6 linked regions of the Homo sapiens genome follow. The protein of the gene in region 2 purifies or fractionates together with the protein of the main gene of each other region. This does not show direct contact. Each region holds a gene or a part of one and is shown on either strand. Other genes may lie near its edges. The genes, in order: SMARCC2, FLI1, SS18, DPF2, SMARCA2 and PHF10.

Region 1 (3,625 bases), on a different chromosome or scaffold from region 2:
CTTCCAGCTCCTTAAATCTGGCCCCCGCCCTCCCAAGCTCCCAATAAGGCCTTTTGTGGGGAAGCCTGTGGAGTGTTTATTGGAGCTAAAGCCAGGCCATTATTAGCACTGCCTAAGCCTGTCCGTCACCTCAGCAGGGTGAAGGGCCAATTATAACAAAAGTAGGTAAGGGGCTTGCCTCCTCTCTAATAAGGGAAGGAGTGAAACCACTACTTCTGAAGGGACAGAGATACAAAATTCCATGTTGTGGGAATGTCCTTCCAAGTCTTAAACAGCTTTTAGGGCAGGTGAGAGCCTCTGCTCCTATACCAGCACATAGTCTCGACAGTTGTGCTGCCGTTCGTGTTTTGTGGGGAGGCGCAGTGTCTGTAGGCCGTGTGGCTTGCAGAGTGTCTTTCGGCCCAGGTAAACGCCGCTGTGAAGGACTCCAGGAAAGCTGCTCCCATCACAATCCCCCTGCCTGACAGCCACAGGTAAGAACACAGAATGCACCCACAAGATGGAACTGAAAGCAAATTAATTTATAAAAAAAAAAAAAAGAAAGAAAGAAAAAAAGAGAAAATTTACAGAAAACTTTGAACAGAAGAAAGGTGCTAAGACGCAGAGGGAGAGAAACATGGGGACATGAGGAACAAAGGGCCTGGTGGGAGGAACCAAGAAGAACCAGTGCAGAGCCTGGAGTCACACCTGCCTTCCCGTCACAGGGGAGAAGCTGGGACACGTGGAGCAGGAATGCGGGAAGCAGAGTTGAGCTGCGAGCCAAGGGTTGGTCCAACCCAAGGTTGGGCACCCTCTTCCACTGCTCCCAAATCCCTGCATCCTCATCTGGGGAGCCCCCAGCTATCAGCTGAAGTTCTCATAGTCTTGGTGGGAGAGGGAGGAAGCTAAGGGGTGACCCACCAAGTCATAATATGGAGGTGCTTAAGTGCTTTAAAAAACAATTTCAGGTTTTAAAACTTCACATCCTCTTATAGCTCCCTTCTCTGTGCCTTCCAGGAGTCCATGGATACAGCCCAGGGAAGGAAGGAGAACAGCCCCCAGTGCCCTTTCTTCTCCTATTACCTACCACAGAAATCCCCGAAATTAGGTTTTCCCCACCAAATACACATACGCTGACATCAACTAAGCAAGTGACTTTTAAAAACAAAACTGACATTCAGAGGGAAAGGAATCATTGGCTGAGCTGGGGTGGCCTAAAACAGCAACAATGAGGAAGCCGCAGGAGGGATTATTAGTACGAATGAACTCGAATAAGCTCAGCGTAGGGTGGGGGAGGGGAGTTGGGGCCTTGACTTAGTCACTAAAAAGGGGCTTGGGGAGAGATGGAATCTGCGCCCTGTTCTATCCCCAGAGCTCTCCCTGGAATCTTAATTCCCCTTTCCTAAAACTCACTCCCCCTCAAAAAATGTAAAAATTGGTTATTTTTTAGTGGGTAGAAGGGAGCTCCAATGTGGCTTTTTAAAATCTACTTTTTTTTTTTTTTTTTAATCCATAGAAAATGCAGTAGTTTGGAGGGAGGTGTACCCTTAGAAGTGGTTAATAGAACCTTGTATAAACACCTTTCACCAGCCCTTCCTTTAGGGCAGCATTCCCATCCTATCCTCTCTCCCAGACATTATAAACATCTTTTAAACAGAAGTCCTTGAATAATCTGATATAAAAATGCATGCCTCTGTTAGGCATGGTGAGGGCTTTGGAGGGGCGGAAGGAGCTTTCCTTACGTAGTGATGAACTCTCCAGGCTGGGGAGGGTCCCAGTGGTGGGGGAAGGGCTGTTCCTGGAACCGTGATGTCCACAGGGGGTGAGGGGGAGAGATGTCTGGCTGGCTCCTCACTGTGGAGGTGGCACAGGGGTGACCGTGCCTGGGCTCGGGGCTGTGGGGTCTGGAGGCAGGGGGGTGCCTGGGTCTGTGGAGAAAAGGAAGATAAATCAGTTAGAGTACGCCGGAGAGATGGCTCCAGACCCAGACCACCACAGACAGACAGAACCGGGCATGGCATGCAGTGGCTGGGTGGATGAATGAGGTACCCATAATGTTCAACTTCTGTTCCCAACACTCTTTTCTACCTCATACTCAGAAAAACATATAGAAAGACTCTCTATATGGGGCATTTGAACGTGATAGGAATAAGCAAAGGGATGCCACTCAATCATCATGCAAACAGCTGCTTTTCAAGTTTACAACTGAGATGCTCTCTGCCACAGGATTGCTCCATGACCCACCAGTGAAAGGCCCCAACATCATCCCAAAGGTGGCAGCTGCCAGGCTGGGGAATGGTGGAGGACGGCCAGAGAGGCCCTTCCTCCTGTATTCTAATTTTACCAGAGTGTTCAAAAAGGATTGTGGAAACTCTAATACCTGACCTCTTCCCCACCTGCCCGCTCACCCTCCCTCCAGGTGGACCCCTCTCCCTCACCCTTCTCCCCTCTTGGCCCCTTCTCACCTGGCAGTGGGCTGGCACTGGGCAGGAGGTTGCCCTGAACAGCTGCCACAATGGCAGGGCTTTGGGCTGCGGCGGATCCGAGCCCCGGCCCGAGAGGCAAGGAAGATGGCATGGTGGTGGTCGCCGGCAGGTTAGGATGTAGAGGGTTCGCCATGGACACAGGCAGGTTAGGTGGGGGGAGAGTGCCCGGGGCGAACGGGAGATGGTGGTGATGCCCATGCAGGTTAGGAGGAGCGGGGAGGTTAATACTGATGGAGTCAGCTAGACTACCAAATGGGATGATGGATGGAGCAGGAGGAGGAGGAGGAGGCGGCATGCCAAAAGGCAAACCCAAAGGAGCATTACCCGCCACGCCTGGGTGCCCGCTGCCTGGCACTGCCCCTGGCATCATTGAGGGAGGAGTTTGTTGGTTGGGGAACGGTGAGGGGCCTGAGAATAAAGATGAGAGATGGAGAAAATTAGGTATAAAATTTTGCTTAACAACTCACCTTTTCTATTTTTTTTTTAGACGGAGTCTCACTCTGTCACCAGGCTGGAGTGCAGTGGCACGATCTTGGCTCACTGCAACCTCCGCCTCCCGGGTTTAAGCAATCTCCTGCCTCAGCCTCCCGAGTAGCTGGTACTACATGTACGCACCACCACGCCCAGCTAATTTTTGTATTTTTACTAGAGACGGGGTTTCAACATGTTGGCCAGGATGGTCTCAATCTCCTGACCTCGTGATCCACCCATTTCGGCCTCCCAAAGAATAACTCACTTTTACAAACAAGGATAATCTAGCCATTCCTTGGCACTATCTTCCCCTTTTCTGACACTAGAGTAAGTGAATAAAATTCCAAAGCTCTCGAGTTTGGGGAAGGACTCCTGCTGATTTAGGGGCCTAAGAGAGATGGGCCCATCTGTAGAAATTGAGGCTAACCTCATCTCCACACTCATCTTGTATCCCCTTTGAGGAGAACTGGGACATTCACCTGGATTCCTCTAGCCAACAAAAGTTCTGGAACATAACACTTACCATGGGGTCCAGGGGGGGGAACCCCTGGTGGGACTGCCCCAGGCTGGGGGGCTCCAGCTGGTTGCTGCTGCTGTGGCCCTGCAGTTGACCCTGCCTGCCCAATCTGTTCAGAAGGGCCCAAACTTCCTGGAGGGGCCCCACTGCCAGCAGGAGCAGGGACTACAGA
Region 2 (3,500 bases):
TGGAGGGCATGCAGAGTGTGTTTGCCAGCCAGCTTCAGGGCGCCAGGTGGCCATGGGTGGGACTTCACCCCTCCAGACAGCTGCCCATCACCAGTGCTGCAAAATACCAGGTGCTGATCAAGTTCTGTAGTTCTAGGCTAAGTTGGATGATCTGCTTTCTCTCTTGTGAATGTCCATACTGCTTCCACAGTGAGCTTGGGGCCAGGGATGCAAAATGCCACAGGGCCACCACCTCTCCATCAGGTGGAAGTTCCTGGACTCCATTCCTTCTCCAAGTAGCAACCAGCTCTTTTGCATGTGTGCTTGATAGTGAAGCTTAACACAGAAGACCTGAGTCCTGTTTCCACCTTGACTAGCTGTGTGACTGAGCCAGGCAGCCCCTGTCTCGATTTCATTAACCATGAAAAGGAGATAGTAACCCTTGCTGTGCCTATCCTGGGGGCTTATTGGGAAATTCGAATACAACAGTGCATAAGAAATGCATTAAACTTATATATGTGCAATAGAAATAACTCACTGAGAAAGCATTTGCTGCTCACCTCCTGTAAGAATACTAGGGTTAAACAAAGAAAGTGATGACTATCCTCTCAAGAACTCAGCAGTCAGGGGGCGCAGGCCAAGCTGAGAATCAGACAGTGTGACAAGTCCTTATAACCAAGGCGGGCACCAAGTGCTGGGGGACTGTGGGGAAGGCGTGTCTGGGAGCATGGACTAGGTTGCCTGGCAGTGAGGCTAAAAATGTAAGCTGCAGTCAGACAGGGAGGGCTGCGATGCCACACAAAGAAGCTCAGACCTTGGTCTGAGGGCACTGAGGCGCTGCCAGCAGTTTTTACGTACTGTAATTATAGGATTGGGCTGGGATTTGAAGAAAACTCTGGTGGCAGCATGGAGGATAGAAAGAGGGCATCATCATCATCATGACACCAAGTGTGGCCGGGCAATGGCTCCATGCTCATCATCGGAGCCCTGGGCTCATGATTCAGAGGCTGAGGCAAGCTGCCCTGTCAGTGCTGACCGCCTCTGGGCTTTGTCTCTTCTCACTTTAGGGAGTCTCCGGTGGACTGCAGCGTTAGCAAATGCAGCAAGCTGGTGGGCGGAGGCGAGTCCAACCCCATGAACTACAACAGCTATATGGACGAGAAGAATGGCCCCCCTCCTCCCAACATGACCACCAACGAGAGGAGAGTCATCGTCCCCGCAGGTAATTCGAGAACCAGGCTGCCTGGGCGCCATTCACTTCCCCACTCTCTGGGGGGGCAGGGAGCATCTAAACCTTTATCTGATACTCTATTCCCTGTGGAATTGCAAAATGGAGAAAGCTGCACGCCAGCCGGGAGTGGTGGCTCGCGCCTGTAATCCCAGCACTTTGAGAGGCCAAGACGGGTGAATCACTTGTCAGGAGTTCAAGACCAGCCTAGCCAACGTGGTGAAACCTCATCTCTACTAAAAAAAAAAAAAAATACAAAAATTAGCCAGGTGTGGTAGTGGACGCTTATATTCCCAGCTACTCAGGGGGCTGAAGCAGGAGACTCGCTTTAACCGGGAAGGCGGAGGTTGCAGGGAGCCAAGATCACACCACTGCACTCCAGCCTGGGTGATGGAATGAGACTCTGTCTCAAAAAAAAAAAAAAAAAAAAAAAGCTGCACATTTTACCTGACTTCCTAGCTGCCCTTTAAGGCAGTATCCCAGATGTCACCTGATGTGTGGGTGCTAGAAGCCCCACCCTTAAACAGACCACATCACAGACTCTACATCAATGGCCTGGTCCTCAAGGACGGGCTGCTCAGAGAGCAGAGGCAAGGCCGCCTCCACCCAAAAGGAATCCCGTGAGCTCTGGATGTGGGCATCCCTGCCTGTGAGGAGGAGGTCAGCTGCAGAGGCCAGTCCTTCCCTCCAGGCTCGTACTTCCCGGCATCTACCAGGTTCCACCTTTCCAAAATTACAGCCAGCTCTTTCAGTTTTAAAATAGAAAGAACTATATTTAACTAATGGAGTGCCTTAACATGTGTGCCACAAGTTATGTCATTAGGTAAAAATAGCCTCTTTTTCCTAGGTGTTGGTGCTGTTGGTCCCAGAAAATAAAATCATCGTTCAGTCCTTCAGTCCATTGGCTGGACACTCCACCCCAGCTAGCACCAGCAAGCTCAGCTGCCTGCACAAGAAGGGTGTTTACAAACTGCCACGTGTAGAACTGGTGCCAGGTAGAAGGGGCAAGGATGTCCAAATCTTAAGCAAAGTGATTACAGGGCAGGGATTAAACCTGATCTTACCAAAATAACTTTACCAGAGAGGCAAAACTCCTTCCATTTGTAAAAGCATAAATGTAGTTGCCTCTGAAGTCAAAAGGTTAGACATCTCTTTGAGGTAGTCCGAAGGCATCTGCTTGTAGGTCTAAAGGCAGAAATGTTAAGGGCTGCCTCCTGCCTTGGCCCGTGGTGTTTGTTTTCCCTGGGAAGCTGCATCTCACCATATCCCTGGATTACAGCTGCCTCCCTGTGCTCTGGGCCAAATTCAAGAAGGTGTGAGCAAGAGTGAGGCAGCAGACGGGTGGGGCTTGTAGAAATTTCTCTGTACCCTTTAGGACTTAGAAATGACTCCTAAAGCAATTCTAAGTTTGCTCTTCCACAAGCATCTGACCTAACAAAGGAAGAGGAAGAATCACTTCCATTTATTGAGTGCTTTCTAGGTGCCAGGCACCACGTAAATTGCTTTATCTCCATGGCATTACTTAAAACACCTGTCACAGGAGACCAGCTAGTAATGTTTAGCCCAGGTGTATCGTCTCCCTCCTCACTGAAAGCAGACAATGAAACTGTATTAGAACTGACAGGTGGGAATCTCTTTGTACAGCCCAAAGCAAAGCTGAGCCTCACTGGGTCTTCACTCAAATGGTTTCAAACTCCCCTGCTTCAGTCAAACAGCTCCCAGCCTGGGAGGGAAAGCTTGCTGGACTGAAGGGTTTGGGGATCTGAGATTGTCTTTGAACCAACCTTTGGCACCATCTCATTTTGGTCGTCATTTTGGGGAAGGAATCTTGGAAATGGGCAGAAGTGGCCAGACTGCTATGTCGACCCTCCAAACTTTCTTTGATCAGTGTTGAAATGCTTTCAAAAGGAATAGCAAAACATCAGGCTTGGCTGAGCCAAGTTACCTATAGCGCTGGTGGTGAAAATAAAACAAATTCATGTCAAATGATTTTCAAAGCACTTTCAGGCTATGGATTTACTTCATTATTTTAGCTCCGGCTAGATCTTTTAGGTCCTCACACATTTTGGCTTCCTCCAGGCCAGGCTGTGGATATGAGGGGAAGTCTCATTTGGGCAAGTCCACAAATCAAGGCAATAAAATATTAGTGGAATAACCGATTGAATTTATGATGGGATTTAAAGACAAGTATAAATGTGGGCCCTAGTTAATCACTAGCTCCATGTTCAGATGGGAAGAAACTAGGACTAAATCATCCAGGAAATGCATTTGGAAGAGTTTAGCATGATCCAGA
Region 3 (3,500 bases), on a different chromosome or scaffold from region 2:
CATGCCTAAAAAGGTAGGCTGTGTATCTGCAACCATTAACAAATTCCAAGGTGGCATTAAGGATTAAAAGTACGGCTTTTGGAGCCAGAAACCAATTTCTAGTGCTAACGTCACCACTTAACAGCTTCTTATCCTTGGGCAAGTTGCTTAACCTCCCTGAGTTTCAATTTTATCATCTGACAAGGGTAATTATAATCTCTATTTTAAAAAGTTATTCAAGAAGAAAAACATGAAAATGCTCTGTGAACTACTCAAGTACTCATTAACAGTATGGGTGGCAGCATGGTACAGTGAACAGAGCATGGGCTTTCAGCACTCAGCAGTAGTCATGCAGCTTCACCACTCCTGAATTCTGTCATCTTGAGTAAATCACTTGAACACTCTAAGCCTCACCTTCTCTCTCTTTGCTCTTCAATTTTTAAAAAAAATTCCTCTGACTACAGTATAAAGAATTTTAATGGGAAAGAAGACAGTATGGAAGATCCTACTGCGATGAAGACAGGAGATGAACATGGTCTAAACTAAGATAAGGGTGTAGGTTAGAAAGAAATGAATGGGTTCAAAAGCTTTTCAAAAAGGAAGATCAATAACATTTGTCATTTATTAGACAAGGGAGGAAAAGCAGGGACACTTAAATACCAAACAGGCACTTGGCAATCTAGCTTGGTGATAGTACCCCTCTCTTTGATAAAGAACACAGAAAAGTTTTGGTAGAAAAAATTATAAATTTATTTTGTTTCTGCTGAATTAATACCTATGATACATCTAAGCAGAGCTGTCGAGTAGGCATCTAATTTCCAGAAGAGAGATTGAGACTATAAATAGAGATTTGGGAGTCAACAGCATGGTGAACTGAGACCTTGTGAATAAATGAGAATGCCTAGGGAGAGTATATTGAATGAGAAGAGTTCCTAAGGTAGAAATCTGAGCAATACCAAAATCTTTACATTTCTTTCCTTCATTCTATTTACCTAATCAGTTTAAAATCTTAACATTATTCCTTCACAACATTTTAGGGGTTTCCTCTTAACTCTGGTCTTGTGATCACGCATTCAAATCTAGAAAGTAGTGGCCTTATTTACTCAGTTGTTTATACTTTATTCACCAATATTTACTGATTATGTGCTGTGCTCTACTAGGTGACAGAGACTCAACAGTAATAAAAACAGACAAAGCGATGCTTTTAAAGAGGTTACATTCTTGGGGAAGAAGAATATGACAATAAACAGTAACAAAATAATCTGTCAAATGAAGAGAAATGTTATGTTGAAAAATTAATGCATGTTTCTATTCAAGATGGATTTATCTGGCAGCCTGAAACAATAAAAAAAAAAAAAACTACACAAAGCATATGATAATCATATTCAGGACACACAGGACAGAGCCAACAAAGGACAATGATCCCTGAGACATGGTAAACAAATGAGGCCAGCCCTCTGACTACCACAGCTAACTACCTTGAGAGTTTCCAGTCTGCAGTGCACGAAGGGGAACTGAGGCTGAGTCTGCCAGATGTTCTGACTTAAGGAGATAAGGCTTAGAGTCTGGAGAGAAAAAGGTAGCTAGAGTTAACAGGACAGAGTACCCTACAAGAAAGATCTGCCTAAAGAGACAACTGTGGAGATGTGCAGAGGAACCCTCCTCCTATTCAGCATAGTACAGATATGCAAATGTGTGAGGAAAATACCCAGGGCTGAGGCAAGAAACACCCAAAAGGATTAGGGGAAACAATACTTGTTTGTCACATAGGAACAGAATCAGTGCTTATTCCCACCAGTCAGAGTAAAAAGCCTTACAATTCAAAGGGCATTGGGCAAAACACCCAAAAGGCTCTTACCTTATCAGTGATGAGTATTTAGCCCAGGACTAAACACTGCTCTTTGTCCTGCCTAGAATATCTTAAAAGCAATTTCAGAAAGTTCAAACTGTTTGTAACTTATTAAACTGAATCCCAAAGCAAAGCTTAAGAATATCTCTAGGTATACATATATCTTCATCACCCAACATAAAATTCACAATGTCTGGAATCCAATCAAAGATTATCACGCACACAAAGGACAGAGAAAAAAAACTGATTAAAACTGACCCTAAAATGACATAGATTATTAGAGTTGGCAGAAGAGGATATTAAAAGAATTATATTTGTATTCCATATGTTCAAAACAATTAAGGACAGACACGGAAGATATTAAAAAGACCTAAACCAAACTTGTAGAGATGAAAATGACAAAGTCTGAGATAACACTCAACAAACTCCAAGCATAAGAAACATGAAGAAATCAACACCAATGCATGCTCTCATCAAATTGCTCAAAACAATTTGGGCAAGAGAGAAATTTCTTCAATCAAACAATTTGATAAAGGGAAAATCTTAAAAACAGAGAAAAAAGACATATTAACTACAAAAGAACAAAGATAAATGACAGCAAATGTCTCCTTGGAAACAATGTAAGGAAGAAAAGAGTGGAGCATCTTTAAAGTATGGAAAGAAAACAAAAACAAACTGTCCACCTAGAATTCTATACCCAGAGAAAATATCTTTCAAAAATAAAGGCAAAATAAACATTTTTTTCAGACATACAAAAGCTGATTATTACCAGTACACCTGCATTTCAAGAAATGTTAACATCCTTCAGGCAAACAAAAATGATACCACATAGTAATATGAATCCATACATAAATAATGAAGAGTACCAAAAACGGTAACTACATGGGTCAATTTAAAAATTTTTTTTTCCTTATTATTTAAGTATCTTTAACTGATTTTTTTAGACAAAAATAAATTCAATACACTGTGGGGTTTATAACGTATACAGAAGTAAAATTTGTAACAATAACACAAAGAGAAGAAAAGCAGACTACCTTAAGGTTCTTACACTATGTATAGGCATACTATCACTTGAAGACACTGATACACGCTACACAGACGAACCTTGAAAATATTATTTTAAGTAAAAAAAACAAAACACCAGTCACAAAACTCCACATATTGTATGATTCCATTTATCTTAAATGTACTGAATAGGCAAATCTATAGAGATAGAAAGTAAACTACTGTTGCTGGAAAATCTCCAAATATTTGAAAACGAAATTACAGAATGAGTATTTAAGTATTTAAGGCTGAGTAGTTAAAGGGGAATGAGGAGTGACTGCTAATAGGTATACAGTTTATCAGGCTGGTGAAAATGTTTTAAAATTAGAGGGTGGTGATGGCTGCACTTTTTTGGGGGGACAGGATATTAGCTCTGTCACTCAGCCTGGAGTATAGTGACACAATCACAACTTACTGCAGCCTCGACCTCCTGGGTTCATGCAATCTTCTGCCTCAGCCTCCTGAAGAGCTGGGACTACAGGCACATGCCATCATGCCTGGCTAGTTTTTTGTAGAGGTGGGGGTCTCGCTTTGTTGCCCAGGTTGGTCTTCAACTCCTGGGCTCAAGCAATCCTCCTGCCTTAGCTTCCCAAAGTGCTGTAATTATAGGCGTGAGCCACCACCCCCA
Region 4 (3,500 bases), about 63 Mb from region 2:
GGAGCGGGGGGCATAGGGTGCTGAGCTATTCCTCTCCCCTGCCATCTGCTTCTCTAGAAGGCTCAAGGGACTGGGTGGCTGTCTCTTCCGTTCTATTTGCCTCCACTTCTGCCTCATGGGACACGAAGCCCCTTTTCTAGGCCATCATGAGGAATTACTTTACAAATAAATTACCATCAGGAACACATGATTTCATCATATGTCTAATCAGACTTAAGTTTAACCCCCAAAGAGGTGAAAGAATGTTCACTCCACGTGTCTCACAAGCCCACCCCTGTGCTAGTTAAGATGCTATTTCTCTTAACCCTTATGAGGCTAAGAAGCAGATGATAGTCCCTCCTAAGTTCCTCCTTATTCCCTCTTTCCTAGAATCACCTCCCAAATAAACTACATGCTCCCACATCCTTGCCCCAAGGTCTGCTCCAGAGGGAAAGAGTTCAAAGTCTAGGGGACTTATTAAAATGTATTTAGCAAACTATGGTAAATCCATACAATGAAATTCTACTTAGCCATAAGAAGGAAGCTCTTCACATACTGATATTAAACAATTTCAAGTTAACTAGGGACAAAAAGCAAAGCAAGGTACACTGCTGAGAAGCGTCAAATAAAACTATCATTTATGTAACAAAATGGAAAAGAAACTGCAGGTCAGCGGGGAGAAAAAGTGGGTGACTAGGCCACTTCCTTCCATATGCCTTTTTATATCTTTTGAATTTTGAACTAGGTTTTTAATCAACTAATTAATTTTACATTTATGGAAGATGTCTACAAGTACCTGAAGTTCCTTGAAGCTTTTATTGAGCACCATCACTCATAAGAAACTTGTTTGCTCTAAGGCCCATCTTAGGGTTCTTCTCCATTCTCACAAAATAAAATTATATAGGAAAAAATCTTCTTGGTCTCAAAAGACTCAATTTGAAATCTGAATCAAGGGTAAATCTTTAAGTGGAAAACTGGAAAACTGCACAGTGCCAGGAGTTATCTGGTTCTAAGAAGCGTGTATATAGAACCTATCTTGTTCTCATCTTGCAGGGTTTAACAAGGACTTTGGTAATGGAGGTTAACAAACTCGATCTTATATTCAATCAATCTTGTTTTTTTTTTTTTTTAAGAGACAAGGTCTCACTATGTTGCCCAAGCTGGACACAAACTCCTGGCTCAAGTGATCCTCCTGCCTTAGCCTCCCAAGTATCTGGGAATAGAGGCATGTGTCACAGTACCTGGCGTCAATCAATCTTAAACCAAGGGCAGAATTGATTTATTTCTCATAGTATCCCTAATACTCATGACGATGTCTGAGATACAGTCAGACTTGACTTGAGAGTAAAAAGACCTGGCTTGCCTGCAAGTCACACGAACATGGACACTTAGTCAGCCCAGGTGGACCTTGGTTACTCTTCTATAGATTGAGGAGGTTGGACCAAATGAGCTTTGACATATCAGGATTTTACAAGAAACAGCCTGGGGATGAGACAGCAAACAGATTAAGTCTCTGTGGTTTCTGTCCGTAACTCGGGCTACACCAACAAACCCTGCTCTAGAATGTGACAGGGTCCTTCAGTGAGCAGCCACAATAGACCACTGCATAACTTAGCATGTGCCCAGCAAGTAAAAAAGACACATACGACACACAGAGACGGCAATGCCACAAATATAGCCTGGCGTGATTCAATGAGCTGTAATGACTGTAATCTGAGGTAGGCACGAATCTCACGTTGGAGAGCAGAATGGAGAAGGCAGCCTTGCCTCTGTGGGCTCGCCTTTAGGAGGCAGCCACGTCTTCACCACACAGAATAAAATTGGATAAACAAGGTTGAGTGCGGCAGCTCCTTTGTTTCTGCTGATGGGAATTGATACGGACACTGGAAGTCAAATGGAAGGCAGGGCCAGGCTGGCGAGTGCTGCAAAGTCAGAGCAAGGAGGCTGGAAACAGTTTTGCGGGGAATGAATGAGAGATGTTCTGTCAGGGCTCTTGTGAGCTACATAAGGCAGGCAAACAGTCTTGGGGGTAAAAGGGCTGGGAAGGAAACACTGAAGTGTGGGGGGAGAATCTCATGAAGAGAGAACAAGACAGCATGACAGTGAGCTCTTAAGAACTTAAGGGAGGCCGGGCACAGTAGCTCATGCTTATAATCCCAGCACTTTGGGAGGCCAAGGCTGGTGGATCTCTTGAGACCAAGAGTTAGAGACCAGCTTGGGCAACATAGTGAGATCCCATCTCTACAAAACGTTAAAAAATAAAAATAAAAAAGGCCTGGCGCAGTGGCTCACGCCTGTAATCCCAGCACTTTGGGAGACTGAGGTGGACGGATCACCTGAGGTCAGGAGTTCGAGACCAGCCTCAACATGGAGAAACCCTGTCTCTACTAAAAATACAAAATTAGCCGGGCGTGGTGGTACATGACCATAATCCCAGCTACGGGGGAGGCTGAGGCAGAAGAATTGCTTGAACCTGGGAGGCGGAGGTTGCGGTGAGCCGAGATTGCGCCATTGCACTCCAGCCTGGGCAACAAGAGCGAAACTCTGTCTCAAAAAAAATAAAATTAAAAAAAACAAAACAAACAAACAAAAAAACCATCAGCTAGGCTTAGTGATGCATGCCTGTGGTTCCACGTAGCCCCTGGGGCGGATGAGGTAGGGGAATCATTTGAGCCTAGGAAGTTGAGGGTGCAGTAAACCAAGGTTATACCACTGCACTTCAGCCTGGGGGACAGAGGGAGGCTCTGTCTCTTAAAACAAAAAAAAGCAATAACAAAAACTTAAGGCTCCGATACCAAGAAATGTCAAGTTAACATTAACATTGTTCTCTCTCTCTCTCTCTCTCTCTCTCTCTCTCTCTCTCTCTCTATATATATATATATATATATATATATATATTTTTTTTTTTTTTTTTTTTTTTGAGATAGAGTCTTGCTTTGCCGCCCAGGTTAGAATGCAGTGGTGCAATCTCGGCTCACTGCAGCTTCTGCCTACTGCAGCTTCTGCCTCCCGGGTTCCAACGATTCTCTTGCCTCAGGCTCCCGAGTGGCATGCGCCACCACGCCCAGCTAATTTTTGTATTCTTAGTAGAGACAGGGTTTCACCATGTTGGCCAAGCTGGTCTCGAACTCCTGACCTCATGATCCGCCCACCTCGGCCTTCCAAAGTTCTGGGATTACAGGTGTAAGCCACCGCGCCCTGCCTCTAGATTTTGCCTAGAAAGTTTCAAAACCAATCAGCAGCTACAGCTATACTATTATTTTACTTTCCTAGTAAGAACGCTTAAAGACTTTCTCTCTTTTTTTGAGACGGAGTCTCGCTCTGTCGCCTGGGCTGGAGTGCAGTGGTGTGATCTCTCCTGGGTTCAAGCGATTCTTCTGCCTCAGCCTCCTGAGTAGCTGGGACTACAGGTGCACGCCACCATGCCCAGCTAATTTTTGTATTTTTACTAGAGACGGGTTTCACCACCTTGGCCAGGCTGGTCTCAAACTCCTGACCTTGTGATCCGCCCGCCTCAGCCT
Region 5 (3,500 bases), on a different chromosome or scaffold from region 2:
TTTCTTGAGCTGATGGGGTAGATAAGGTCTTTGAGATGGGATAAGGTTGCTGTAGGGGGAGGGCAGAGGTGGGGGTGGTGGCATCTGAGCATCCCAGATCAGAAGAAAGCCCCGAGATCACAGAGACCCGGCGAGATCACAGAGACCCGGCCTGAAGGAACGTGGAAAGACCAATGTACCTGTTTTGACCGGTTGCCTGGAGCAAGAAGTTCCAGTTGGGGAGAATTTTCAGAAGATAAAGTCGGAGATTGTGGAAAGACTTGACTTGCAGGTTAAAGCATGAATATTTTATCCAATCTGTATTGGAGGCTTGTCTCAGAAGTTTTGAACAAGGGAATACATGAACAAAGCAATATTTTAGATTAATCTGGCAAATTGTGGATTCAAGTCCAGAGTGGGAATTGAAGCTGTTAGAAGGATCCTGGCAATAATGCGAGCATATAGTAGCTCACAAGGTGTCTTCATATCTCATATTTTATTTGATTCGTATCAAAATTGAAGTTGTAGTCAGCTACTGTTATGCCTATTTTGTAGGTAAGGAGCTTGAAACTCAGAGAGGTTAAATGAACTCATTTGTTGATTTTTTAAAAGGCATAGTAACATCATTAATGGCTATTATCCATTTTAACTGCAATGAACTTGGAGTTCATTGTTGAATTGTTGTTGCTACTGTGAAAGTCAGGGCCAGTTGACATTAATGAGTGCCTATGATAGAACTTTAGTTCATTCAGCATATGATGGTTGAGTTTTACTCTTCAGTAAAAATGTGCCATTTTAACCACAGGTTTTTAAAGTATGTATTTCAGACTCTTCTTTTTATATGTTTAAAGTATAAATAAACTTATCTTGGCAGTCAGAAAAGGAAGTGGCTGTTGTTGATTCTTATCAACATCCAGAATGAGGTTGCTTTGCAAAAGGGCCTAACCTAGGAGAGACAGGCATATGTGTAAATATACGTGACATATTACCTTTCAGGGTGTCATGATTTGAAACTAACTTTTTTTTGTTCAGTTTGTTAGCTTTTGTTTTGACCAGTTTGCCCAGCCCTTTGGGTTCCACTGAATTTTAAAAGTGATTTTCATCTGTGATTACCTTTATAACTACTAATGGACATGAGTCTCAGAGTAGAGGATGCTTTGCTCTAAAGGGTTTCTAACACTTAGGTTTTCTCGTAAATTCCCTTTTTAAAACAATTTTTCCTTTGTGGGATCACTGTCAGTCCTCATGGAAGAGGCCATGAAATTGCATCGCTGGTAGACTCTTTTGAGATGGCAACTCATGGTATCTATAAGGGTGGTAATGTTAAGAGCCAGGATCCTATTAAGGCAGTGTCTGAGGTTCATGGGGGACTAATTAGCTGCTGCCGAGTTTGTTGTTATCTTTTGTTGTGCACAGAGCTGCCTCACAGCCTTTGCCAGGTCTGACTCTGGGCAAGGACCATTCCCAAGGCAGTTTATTTAAAGTGAGGGTAGCAGCTCACCCACATCCTAATTTGTTGCCCTGATTGAAAGATGAAGGAGAGTTCACAGAAGCCCAAGGAACAGAGCAAAGTTTTAATCTAACAACTTTTAAAAAACATATTTGACTTTGAAACGAATGGGAAAGTGTTGTGAATAACCCCAAGAATGCTGAAGAAATGTTCTCAGTGATTTTCTAGGGTCTTGATGGAGCAACTTATAAGGTTAACTTTAGAACCCGGTGTGATTTGTATCTGACAGATCACATTATGCATTGTTTAAAGTTGCACAGCTCAGACCAAGAAGCAGTGTGGGCCTTGGTAATGTTTCACCGCTTATCCCGACAACCTTGGCCTGTAAAAAGGAAACTTCGGGTAGATTTATTTCCTTTATCTGCATTGCTGTTCTCCTTACCCACCCCGCACTGCTTCCCCATTAAGAATAACAGTGCTTGAGGCCCAGTTCTGAAGATGTTGCTACTTCTTGTGGGTGAATTATCAATTCATTTACAGAGAAAGCCACATACAAAACAAGAGGCAGCCCTTCAGGTCAGGGGAGATGTTCTGAATCAGCAAACAGACATAAAAAGAACTCTTATCTTAACTATCTCCTGAACCTTGCAGTTCTCCTGTAACAGCCAGAACACTTTAATAAGACTGGGATATTCTTGGAGATGTGGACTGGGCCTAACTTTTATTTCTGATATTCCACCTTTAACCTGGACCTCCAAGTTTTTCTGTAAAGTGAGCTGTGAAAAAAGACAGGCTGGAGATCCAAGATTTCCTTGTGCTTTCTTATGAAGTTTGGTGAAGAGCAATTTAAGAGATATTGTCAAGGTTGGTGTGCTGCCCCAAACTCTGCGACTAGAAACCAAAAGTTTCTAGGGAACTTTTTTTCTTTTTTTTAAACTTGAAGGCCTTGCTGAAATGCTACCTTCTCCATTACACTTTACCTAATTCCTTTCTCTCCTGTAACCTCTGAGCTAAAGGTAATGTCTCCCATTCTATGACTGTGTTGGATAGTTTGGCTGTACCCCTCCGTGTCCTGCAGGATCTTTCAATATTTTTATCTTGTTGCTACTTACGCACAAGTCTGATTTCCGTATCAGACTTCCAGAGTTGTGGGGTAAGCCTTCTATTCATTTTTGTACCGCCTGCATGCCTTGTACCTAGTAGATACTCGGTATGGTAACTAAAACATCATCGACCTTTTCAGTTGATGACATGGTCTTCTTTTCACATTCCAGGGCTTCTCTTTACTTCTCTAGCCTGTGGTAAGTTAATATATTATCACAACCAAAGCCTAGTCCTTGCAAGATATCCCTTCCACTGTTTCTGACCTTTTTTTCTTTGGCTTCTACTTTCTACCCCTGCACATTGCTCTGGCCTGGTGAAAACTCTGGTGGAAACATGGCTTGCTAGATCCGTGTCATAGCTCAGTGTTGGGCTGGGAGTCAAGGGATAAAAGATTCTGCCTGCGGTTTCTCTCCTGTTGCAGATGTTACTTTGGGCAAGCCATGTTTTCCCCTTCTGCCTTATTGCCCTCATCTTTTCAATGGCGTTGTGGCAAAATGTCTCTTCAAATCACCAGAATTATTAGGAAACACATGTAGGTGTGTTCAAATATTACTCCACATGTGGGGGTCTTTGGTGTTTCTGTTGGTTACAATTAGACTGTAAGACACAAGTTTTGTCATGGTTGGAGTGGTGACCCTTAAAATTCCATGAAGTTGAACTCCTTTTAATATGCAGATGGCTGTGCTGAGCCTTTCAGCTAAGGGCAGAGGAGATTTGGGCTGAGGGAGGATGACTGTGGTGTTTGGAGCTCTGGCAAGCTCCTCTGGGGCCTCTTCTTTTTAAAAACACACACTCTCTAGTTGTGAATGTAGGAAAGTGGGAAGTAAGGACGAAATCAAGACAGAGTATACTGCTGAGAAATTCTTGCCTAAGAACATAGTGGTTTGGCCCTCGGGGAGTCCTGGTCTGGGGGAGGGTGGGGACCAGCAATGCATGTGTATGGGGAGGTTGCTGTGCCCCCCTCTCC
Region 6 (3,500 bases), on a different chromosome or scaffold from region 2:
ACTAATAGTTTAAGTTAGATACTGGCATAGTAAATACTCTAATATCTTTCACTAAAGTCAGGGAAGTAACCAAACAATATTAAATTCTAAAAACAGAACTCCTCACAGGAGATTCTTTACAAAACAAAAGCCAAAAGGAGTAAAACACAAGGGTAGTCATTCACATTCTAGAGCAATTCAAGTTCTACAATCATTAAAATATACATTAAACACCTATGATAAAAGGGACACCAAAAAATTCTAGGTTTATTTCTAAGTTTAAATCATAATGATTTGTTAAATCACTTAGTTTTTCTTACCCAACAGCCTTCATCTTGATGAAAAGAGGGAAACATGAGAGAAGGGGAAGAGAGACAGCTTTGTAGCATTTTCTACGATGAATGCTGCAGCTCGATATACAAAGCATCTGCCCTCTCTAAGAAGCCACAGTGCTGGCATCCAGGACTTTACACAGCAGATAACAACTGTGGCTTAGAGAAGCCAGTCTCAAGTGGATTGCACAGTTGAGGGAGGGGTTAATGTGCAGCACTCTCCACAAGACCAATGGAGCACACTCCTATGTGTGTCTGGTTTAGACAATCAGTTCTACTTCAAATAACTGCAACATCATCAGAGTATCACTATTGACAAGAAAACTGAAATACTCATCCTAATAGCTCTCAGCATCTCAAATAAAAGGCTCACAGTACACTTACTTTTCTACTTGAAAAACAGCCAAAGATAAGACTTTCATGGTAGCAATAATATAGTATAGATTTTAATTATTGTATTTATAGGCCGGAATCCTAATAATTATGCTTTAAATTTCAGGTTAATGTAACCTAAACAATACTGTTCTATGAATTAAGGGCAAGCACTAGTGAATCTTATTAAGCAAAGCATCAGATACATTACTTCCTTGAATCTCGTACTTTTTATATATAAACTATGACCTTTAGCTTGAAGTACCCTAATATTTAGGCACATCTTGGTTTATTAATACTTTTTATAAAGAGGTTAACTTTTAATAAGCATGTTCACATTAATGTATGATGACTAGATACTGGTTGTTCCCATCTTTGAAATACCTGAAACATTTTTAGGTACTAAAAATGTTCACAGATTATGTAAAATATAAATTTTGCATATCCTACTTGAGTACTATTAAGTTCAGTTAATCCATATGATTTCTTGTATACTAAATCAATGATAGTGTTGAATAGCTGATTTCCAGCCTGTATTAAAACATCTATTTCAATATTCTCTCTTTTTAACCCATGATCAATCAAGCTTACTGTTGCAAAGATCTACTTAGCACTCAAGAGTTAACAGGACACTGTGCTTTGAGCGGCCACTTCCATTTAAAGCTCTTAGCAGACCAGTAGAACACACTCATTCATGTATACTGCTTCTGAAATTTCATCTTTGGAGCTCACTTGCTTTCAGTTATTAAGCATTAATTTATATAAAGAAATTACATAAGCTATATATGTAAAAACAAGTACAAAAATCACATAGCTGCAGCCTATTGCAGCCACCCTTGGAAGCCAACCCTTGCTGAATTAAGCTTAAAATTTGCTTGCTATAGGCTACAAAAAAAAAAAAGAATTTTTAAGTTAATTACATAAAAGCATTTCCTAATAAAATATGAAATACACTAACTTAATGTCGCTTTTTTTACTTGAAGAAAGGTAAATGAACATGTTAGAACGTGTTCTAGTTAGTTTGAGGGAAAGGTGACTTACTTCAGCCTGTTCTTGTGAATTATTTACCACAATCACAGTTCTGACATACAAGGTGTTTAACAATTTCACTTGGCAAAACTTTCTCATCAGCTTACTCTAAAATTTTCCTTCAATACACCTTCATAAGTGCAATAAAAGCATGTTCTAATACATTTCAGACCAAAAGAATCAAAAGGTAGTCTATTTTACTACCACCATCCCAAATATGAAACTGTACAGCTAATTCTTCCTTTTATGATATTCTTAAATCCCTATATGCAAATAAGGCTACTCATCTCTCACCTCACCTTTTCTTCAGAAGAAAAGGGAGGGGCAGACAGAGGGAGGAAAAGTTCAAAATATAATAATAGTTGCTGACAACCTACTCCTTTACTCTGAGGATAATCAGATCAACAAGTTAACAAGTATGTTTTAATTCTTGCCATAGAATCATATAGGCTCTTTACCAAGGTTATGCTAAAAATCACTACAATGTAAGTAACAGGTTTTATTATTTTCTATCCCAGAGTTAGCTAAATTTAGCATATGGATCAAATAATCCTTAGATTAAACCCAGATCTTTCTTAATGAAAGGCACTAAAAAAAATGCAACTTAGTCTAACAGTATATCCACTCATACTTTATAGCTCAGCAGCTTTAGCTACACTAAATGCTGGGGCATTTAAAATGCCAAATAATTATGATCTTTACTCCAAGGAAAGAAAATATAAACTTCTGCCTATGAAATAATGTTTTAAAAACCCATACTTGCCTGGTTATTCTTTCAAAGAAAAAAAAAGACTTATAAATTGTACATATACAGAAAACAGAAGGTAAACCATAGCCAAAAGTGACAGAAAAGCCACCAAGGAAATAAAGCAAAAAAGAAAGCAGCGGACAAAGGGCACACCATAGAAGAACAGCTAGTGAGGTACAGCAGGCAGAAGCTCCACAATCGTGAAAGTCAAGTTAAAATATTTCAGGGAGAGGCTGGTCAGTAAAGAAGCTGAGTCAGGGGCTTTTTTCTTCTACCTTGTACCCAGGAACTGACTTGGACAGTACAGAACGTTTGGGACCATCTTTTCTTGGAGTGGCAGCTTTGTCTTTTGATTTCTGTCTTCCCTGGAAAGAGTCCTCCTGGCTGTCAGGAGGGCTTTCCCCTTCAGATACATTGCCAGAGGAGCTGTCCTGGAGTTTAAAAGGCAAAAACAAAGATTCTTTGGAATTAAGACAAATTTGAGTCTGGATTTTGAAAACTATGGAAAATATTCAAAGAAAGTTTTAAAGCTTTATCATTTTAAAAATAAAAAGATCATTCTAAATGTAAGAAAGCTTTTTCCAGTGGAGACTAAAGTAAGTTATGTTAAAAATCATTCCTCCTTCTTCTAAGTATATTATATAAAACTGATTCCATATCAGTGCCTTCATCAACTTTGTTTTCTGACATAAGTCACAAAAACACAATTATCCGCTTCAGCTACTATTACGGCACACAGCTTCAACATCATTTTCCGTCACAAGGGAACATATTTGTTTCATACAAAAATATATTGTTACAAATAAGTGTGGGTATTTTCACTGAGTACTAAAAGTCATTAAGAAGGTCCTTCAGGAAAAATGAAGCGCTGCAGTTAGGAAAAAAAAAAAAAAGTCCTTCAAGTACACATTTGTGTTTTCACAATGTTAAACTATGCAGAGCCAATCCCTCAACTATCTACAACAGGATCTGAAATATTTTATATATTCAAGGTTTAAGACCTCAGTATCTGATCATTTAATTCTTCATTTTATAATTTA

The links.
Region 1: the proteins of FLI1 (region 2) and SMARCC2 purify together in Homo sapiens (affinity purification with mass spectrometry, with the first as the bait; one large-scale study listed by BioGRID). This does not show direct contact.
Region 3: the proteins of FLI1 (region 2) and SS18 purify together in Homo sapiens (affinity purification with western blotting, with the first as the bait; one study listed by BioGRID). This does not show direct contact.
Region 4: the proteins of FLI1 (region 2) and DPF2 purify together in Homo sapiens (affinity purification with mass spectrometry, with the first as the bait; one large-scale study listed by BioGRID). This does not show direct contact.
Region 5: the proteins of FLI1 (region 2) and SMARCA2 purify together in Homo sapiens (affinity purification with mass spectrometry, with the first as the bait; one large-scale study listed by BioGRID). This does not show direct contact.
Region 6: the proteins of FLI1 (region 2) and PHF10 purify together in Homo sapiens (affinity purification with mass spectrometry, with the first as the bait; one large-scale study listed by BioGRID). This does not show direct contact.

Annotation. Positions count from the first base shown.
Region 1 is NC_000012.12:56,161,859-56,165,483, forward strand, and holds the end of SMARCC2 (SWI/SNF complex subunit SMARCC2), read right to left. Parts: coding exon 3,460-3,625; intron 2,874-3,459; coding exon 2,445-2,873; intron 1,908-2,444; coding exon 1,831-1,907; 3' UTR 501-1,830; downstream 1-500. UniProt on the Homo sapiens protein: Involved in transcriptional activation and repression of select genes by chromatin remodeling (alteration of DNA-nucleosome topology).
Region 2 is NC_000011.10:128,767,072-128,770,571, forward strand, and holds part of FLI1 (Friend leukemia integration 1 transcription factor), read left to right. Parts: intron 1-1,046; coding exon 1,047-1,201; intron 1,202-3,500. UniProt on the Homo sapiens protein: Sequence-specific transcriptional activator. Recognizes the DNA sequence 5'-C[CA]GGAAGT-3'.
Region 3 is NC_000018.10:26,021,114-26,024,613, forward strand, and holds part of SS18 (protein SSXT), read right to left. Parts: intron 1-3,500. UniProt on the Homo sapiens protein: Appears to function synergistically with RBM14 as a transcriptional coactivator. Isoform 1 and isoform 2 function in nuclear receptor coactivation. Isoform 1 and isoform 2 function in general transcriptional coactivation.
Region 4 is NC_000011.10:65,336,852-65,340,351, reverse strand, and holds part of DPF2 (zinc finger protein ubi-d4), read right to left. Parts: intron 1-3,500. UniProt on the Homo sapiens protein: Plays an active role in transcriptional regulation by binding modified histones H3 and H4. Is a negative regulator of myeloid differentiation of hematopoietic progenitor cells. Might also have a role in the development and maturation of lymphoid cells.
Region 5 is NC_000009.12:2,021,847-2,025,346, forward strand, and holds part of SMARCA2 (SWI/SNF-related matrix-associated actin-dependent regulator of chromatin subfamily A member 2), read left to right. Parts: intron 1-98; exon of another isoform or gene 99-271; intron 272-3,500. UniProt on the Homo sapiens protein: ATPase involved in transcriptional activation and repression of select genes by chromatin remodeling (alteration of DNA-nucleosome topology).
Region 6 is NC_000006.12:169,707,501-169,711,000, forward strand, and holds part of PHF10 (PHD finger protein 10), read right to left. Parts: intron 2,892-3,500; coding exon 2,736-2,891; intron 1-2,735. UniProt on the Homo sapiens protein: Involved in transcription activity regulation by chromatin remodeling. Belongs to the neural progenitors-specific chromatin remodeling complex (npBAF complex) and is required for the proliferation of neural progenitors.